Regions from separate parts of the Homo sapiens genome. Here region 1 is linked to region 2. Evidence: fine-mapped expression QTL. A gene starts in region 2. The other region holds a variant in brackets. All regions are shown on one strand. Distances are from middle to middle.

Region 1 (2,906 bases), 35 kb after region 2:
ACGGGGTTTCACCGTGTTAGCCAGGATGGTCTCGATCTCCTGACCTCATGATCCGCCCACCTCGGCCTCCCAAAGTGCTGGGATTACAGGCGTGAGCCACTGCGCCCGGCCTCAGGTTTCTGTTTTTATCAACACTGATCTCTTATACTGGATTTAACAAATTTAATTGGTTGGCCAGGCACGGTGGCTCATGCCTGTAATCCCAGCACTTTAGGAGGCCAAGGCAGCGGATCACCTGAGGTCAGGAGTTTGAGACCAGCCTGCCCAGCATGGTGAAACCCCATGTCTACCAAAAATAAAAAAATTAGCCAGGTGTGGTGGTGCACACCTGTAGTCCCAGCTACTTGGGAGGCTGAGGCAGGAAAATTGCCTGAACCCAGGAGGCAGATATTGCAGTGAGCTGAGATAGTGCCACTGCACTCCAGCCTGGGTGACAGAGAGAGACTCAGTCTCAAAAAAACCAAAATTTAATTGGTTAAAAAGATGAAATTACACATGCTTACTGAAACAAAATTCAGCACTACACAGTAGGTATATGACTTCCCTCTAGTATAGTGTATAGTTTGATGCATAATACATTTTAAATATTTTCATGGCAGAGTTTTTACTTCTTAAGTTTGATTTTTGGAAAATGTATTCCTTAATCTGTGGAAGAGAAGATTGAGTCAGAAATGAATCCAGTTTTCTGATTTTTCATGCCTCTGAAGAACTTCTTTCAGGCATTTCCTGCATTCCTTGCCTGTCTCTCACCTCCTTTTCTTCCCTTCTGCCTTCTCTACTATACCCAGCCCTCCTACATTCATTCATTCATTTATTTATTTTTGAGACGGAGTTTTGCTCTTGTTGCCCAGGCTGGAGTGCAATGGCGTGATCTCAGCTCACCGCAGCCTCTGCCTCCCGGGTTCAAGCAATTCTCCTGCCTCAGCCTCCCGAGTAGCTGGGATTACAGATATGCGCCACCATACCCAGCTAATTTTGTGTTTTTAGTAGAGACGAGTTTTCCCCTCCACAGGTCTTTATTATAATTTGGTTATAGCATTTTATTATTATTATTGGCATAATTTACTTAACAATAAAACGCACAATTCTTGGCCCAGTATGGTGGTTCATGCCTGTAATCCTAGCACTTTGGGAAGCCGAGGCGGGCGGATCTCTTGAGGCCAGGAGTTCAAGATCAGCCTGGTCAACATGGTGAAACCCTGTCTCTACTAAAAATACAAAAATTAGCTAGGCCTGGTGGTGCTCGCTTGTAGTCCCAGCTACTCTGGTGGCTGAGGCATAGGCATGAGAATTGCTTGAACCCAGGAGGCAGAGGTTGCAGTGAGCCGAGGTCACGAGACTGTACTCCAGCCTGGGCGACAGAGCGAGACTCTGTCTCAAAAAAAAAAAAAAAAA[T/AT]GCACCATTTTCTTTTTTTACCCTGTGGTTGGCAGTTTATTTTAAAAAAACAACGCCCCAGTTATCACAGTTTCTTTTTAGTCCATTTTCCATAACAAAAGAAGCTACACAAAATTTGGAGGAAGATACTGTCCTTGCAGACTGACACAGTCTGCAAGAGGGGTCATGAATAATAATGATTTCAAAGCCCCTACTTTAACTCCTGAATTGGGCAAAGAATAAATGACAATATAAGAATGAATTTTGTTTGCAACAATATCATAATATAGCATTAATTATTACAGTGCAGTGGTTGTAATTAAGTTCACAATAAAATATTCTTAACCCAAACACCAGACAAACTAAAATCACTAGACTGCTCATGAACTGAAATGATCAGTGCAAGCAGTTGTTGTCTCAGTAATGAAAACCAAAATTGGAAAGGCTTTTCTGGCAGGGAGTCTCTGACATGAACGGCCCCCTCTCTGTTCATTGAGGCCCAGGCGCCCTCACTTGGAGTCTTGGTCTTTCTTTTAATCTAAAAGGGCAGAACAGAGCCCCAGCTTTTTCAGTTCTTTCACCAGGTACCCATTCTAGTACATATGCATAAGAATGTCACAGCCCCCCACAAACTCGCCATTGAGGTATCCATTGAGGATAGTGGGCCAGTTGGAATAGTCTTTTTTGTTTTTGAGACACAGTTTCGCTCTTGTTGCCCAGGCTGGAGTGCAATGGGGCGATCTCAGCTCACTGCAACCTCTGCCTCCGGGGTTCAAGTGATTGTCCTGCCTCAGCCTCCCGAGTAGCTGGGATTACAGACATGTGCCACCATGCCTGGCTAATTTTGTATTTTTAGTAGAGATGGGATTTCTCCATGTTGGTCAGGCTCGTCTCAAACTCCCACCCTCAGGTAATCCGCCCAGTCTCAAACTCCCACCCTCAGGTAATCCGCCCACCTCAGCCTCTCAAAGTGCTGGGATTACAGGCGTGAGCCACCGCACTCGACTAGAATAGTCTTTATTTTATTTATTTATTTATTTATTTATTTATTTATTTATTTATTTATGAGACAGAGTTTCACTCTTGTTGCCCAGGCTGGAGTGCAAGGGTGCGATCTTGGCTCACCACAACCTCCGCCTCCTGGGTTCAAGTGATTCTCCTGCCTCAGCCTCCTGAGTAGCTGGGATTATAGGCATGCGTCACCACGCCCAGCTAATTTTGTATTTTTAATAGAGACGGGTTTTCTCCATGTTGGTCAGGCTGGTCTCGAACTCCCGACCTCAGGTGATCCGCCCACCTTGGCCTCCCAAAGTGCTGGGATTACAGGCGTGAGCCACCGTGCCTGGCCAAAATGCACAATTCTTAAGCATTCAATTCACTGAATTTTGAATATACTCACTTGTAACCACCATCCTAAACACAATCTTGAACATGGAAATCCCCAGAATATCTCTAGGTGGCCTTTTCTAGTCAATCCCACCCTACCCCCTTTCTAGGTAACCGCTTTATCTTTTATCACCATAAAGTAGTTT
Region 2 (2,906 bases):
GTGACAAGGGCTCCTGTTCAATAGTGGTGTTGGGGAGAGAGAGAGCAGTGATTATAGACCGAGAGAGTAGGAGTTGAGGTGAGGTGAAGGAGGTGCTGGGGGTGAGAATGTCGCCTTTCCCCCTGGGTTTTGGATCACTAATTCAAGGCTCTTCTGGATGTTTCTCTGGGTTGGGGCTGGAGTTCAATGAGGTTTATTTTTAGCTGGCCCACCCAGATACACTCAGCCAGAATACCTAGATTTAGTACCCAAACTCTTCTTAGTCTGAAATCTGCTGGATTTCTGGCCTAAGGGAGAGGCTCCCATCCTTCGTTCCCCAGCCAGCCTAGGACTTCGAATGTGGAGCCTGAAGATCTAAGATCCTAACATGTACATTTTATGTAAATATGTGCATATTTGTACATAAAATGATATTCTGTTTTTAAATAAACAGACAAAACTTGTTCTGTCTGGCTCCTGTCTTGCCCCTTGAACTGTGTAAGCTCTGAGTCACATACTCTCTGTCTCGGTACCATCCTTCCTGTAGTCCCAAGTAGGGGAAGACTTAGGATGCCTGTAGCTGGGAGGGAAGGGAAAGAATTGGCCTCCACAAGGCCTTTGGCCATCTCTGAGAGTCCCCTGGTAGGAAAGTGAAGCTAAGAACCCTTTCGAGGATGGCCAGTACCTTAGTTTGCAAAGTGTTTTAAATTCCTTTTTTTTTTTTTTTTGAGATGAAGTCTCACTTTGTCACCCAGGCTGGAGTGCAGTGGCACTATCTCAGCTCACTGCAACCTCCGACTCCCAGGTTCAAGCGATTCTCTCACCTCAGCCTCCCGTATAGCTGGGATTACAGGCACCCGTCACCATGCTCAGTTAGTTTTTGTATTTTTAGTAGAGACAGGGTTTCACCATGTTGGCCAAGCTGGTCTCGAACTCCTGACCTCAGGTGATTCACCCGCCTCAGCCTCCCAAAGTGCTGGGATTACAGGCGTGAGCCACTGCGCCCAGCCTGAATTCCTTATTGTACTGGAGACTCAACAACAGCTATGTGAAATAGGCAGCAGTGTACCCTTTTTTACAGGTAAAGAAACTGAAACTCAAGTTAAATGAGTTTTACAGACTCTTAGAGGTGGGAGGATTTAAAGGTCCTCTAGTCTGCTCCCTTCATTTTCCTAGGTTTGGAAACTGAGGCTCAGTGAAGTAATGCGATTTGACTGAGGTGCTAGATCCATCAGAGGCAGAACCCAGGCATCCTCCCTTGTGAGTGTGCTTTTTACAGCCCTGTGTCAACTTGCTCCCAGGCAAGCCCCAGGTCTCTACCTTGGACCCAAGAATTCTGGTCTCTAAGGGAGTTGGTCACCTGCTCACACCACAGACGCCATCACCCCACCCCAGGGCTCTGACATCACCTCCCCTGACCAATGAATGAAGTCCAAGCAAAGGGTGAGGATGTGAATGTCAGCTACCTCCCCCACCCTAGGCCCTGTGGTTGCAAAGATGCTCTAACAGGAAGTGGGTTAAGGAGCTGCACTGCTTCCTGCCCCCTAAAGCTGAGCGGGGCGAGGAGGGCGAGTGCCAGGCTGGGCCACGAGACACAGGACACAATTTCTTGCCAGGGTCCTGGTAGCTTCCTCTTCAACAGCCACTTCCGTGTGGCCGGGGCCCCAGGGGCAGGAGCTGCTGCCCGTTGCCCAGGCCACCCTCCACCCCCAATTGGGAGCCCTGCCCCCCTGGGGCCGGGCCAAGCCCAGCAGCTGGCTGGGATCCCATGGGGGACTGGTAGGGCACAGGTCTTGGGGGATAGAGGTGACCGGGCCAGTGCCCTGGGGCTCTGGCCATGAAGTCTCGGCAGAAAGGAAAGAAGAAGGGCAGCGCAAAGGAGCGGGTTTTTGGGTGCGACTTGCAGGAGCACCTGCAGCACTCAGGCCAGGAGGGTAAGGAGGCCGGCTCAGCTTCTGCAGGGTGGGTGGGGAGGCACTGGGCATCTGCAGCCCGATCCAGCCTGAAGGGCAGAAGCAGTTTCCGGTGCTCCTGGGGAAGGGGCAGTGGCCTGGGGTCACCATTCAAGAGAACTGTAAGTGGGCAAGACAGGAAATGTGGCTCAGTGAAGAAGGCAGGGCGGCTCCCTTGTGTAACTTTCTGGGGATGGGGTGGCTGAGGGGATGAGAATGTGAGTACCCAGGTAGCAGTGAGGGGGAGGATGGAGAGACTGGAAACCGAGGAGGAGTGGATGAAACAGCGGGCAGGTGACTGGGAACAGGAGAGGGAGGGTGAGGCGACAGGGTCAGGAGAGGAGTGGCTGAAGGGGAAATGATTATCCTTAGGTCTGAATGAAAGGAGACAGGGAAATGGCCCCAGAAGGGTCTCAAGATGGCCCTTGAGGCGGGTGGTTTCCTGGCTGGAGAACACCCAAGGACAAGGTCATGGGCTCTGTTCCCACTGCAGCCTTGCTGGGCCGCAGGGGATGATGTCGGGCTGGAAACAACCTCTGCCCCTAGTCTTTGTGATTCTCTTGTTGTCCCTGTGCAAAAGAGAAACAGGTTCAAAGTGGGGGGCAAGGGGAGAAGCTGCTGAAATGGGGAAGAATGAAAGAGAGGGTGTGAGGCCTGGCTTGAAGCTGGAGGTGGAGGGTGCAAAGGAGGGTGGGTGTGGAGCTGTCTGTGGAGCTCACCCAGCTCCCTCCCTGGGTTACCTTAGAGTGGGCTTTGAAGCCAGAAGGACCAGGGACAATATCAGGTTCACAACGGGGCCTGGCATGGAGCAGCCACTCAAAATCATTTCTTGATTCAATTTGAAATTGAACCCAGGCACCCTGGCTGCCCAGCCCAGCTTGTTTTTGGCACTTCAAGCTCCTCCTAGAGAAAGGCATAATTCTTTCCCCACTCCACCCCATTCCACCCCACCCCAATCTGTCATTTCCTCTTTGT

What was found. PIP is the estimated chance that this variant, and not a neighbour inherited with it, causes the effect. A credible set is the group of variants that fine-mapping cannot tell apart.
Region 1: its variant is the best candidate, but not a certain one, in a credible set for the expression of ARHGAP30 in whole blood (INTERVAL, PIP 0.84).

What each region holds. Positions count from the first base shown.
Region 1 is chr1:161,033,985-161,036,890 of GRCh38, reverse strand. It overlaps the pseudogene GLRX5P2. Among named protein-coding and RNA genes, the nearest start is that of TSTD1, 3.5 kb to the left of the region's middle. RefSeq lists enhancers at 726-1,231, 1,232-1,738. The variant T/AT (reference allele first, on the strand shown) is at 1,396.
Region 2 is chr1:161,068,535-161,071,440 of GRCh38, reverse strand. ARHGAP30 (Rho GTPase activating protein 30) reads left to right here and starts at 1,550. Exons shown (of 12, transcript NM_001025598.2): 1 at 1,550-1,913. The coding sequence starts at 1,817. NECTIN4 (nectin cell adhesion molecule 4) reads left to right here. Exons shown (of 9, transcript NM_030916.3): 9 at 1-443. RefSeq lists a silencer at 1,665-1,814 and an enhancer at 1,711-2,257.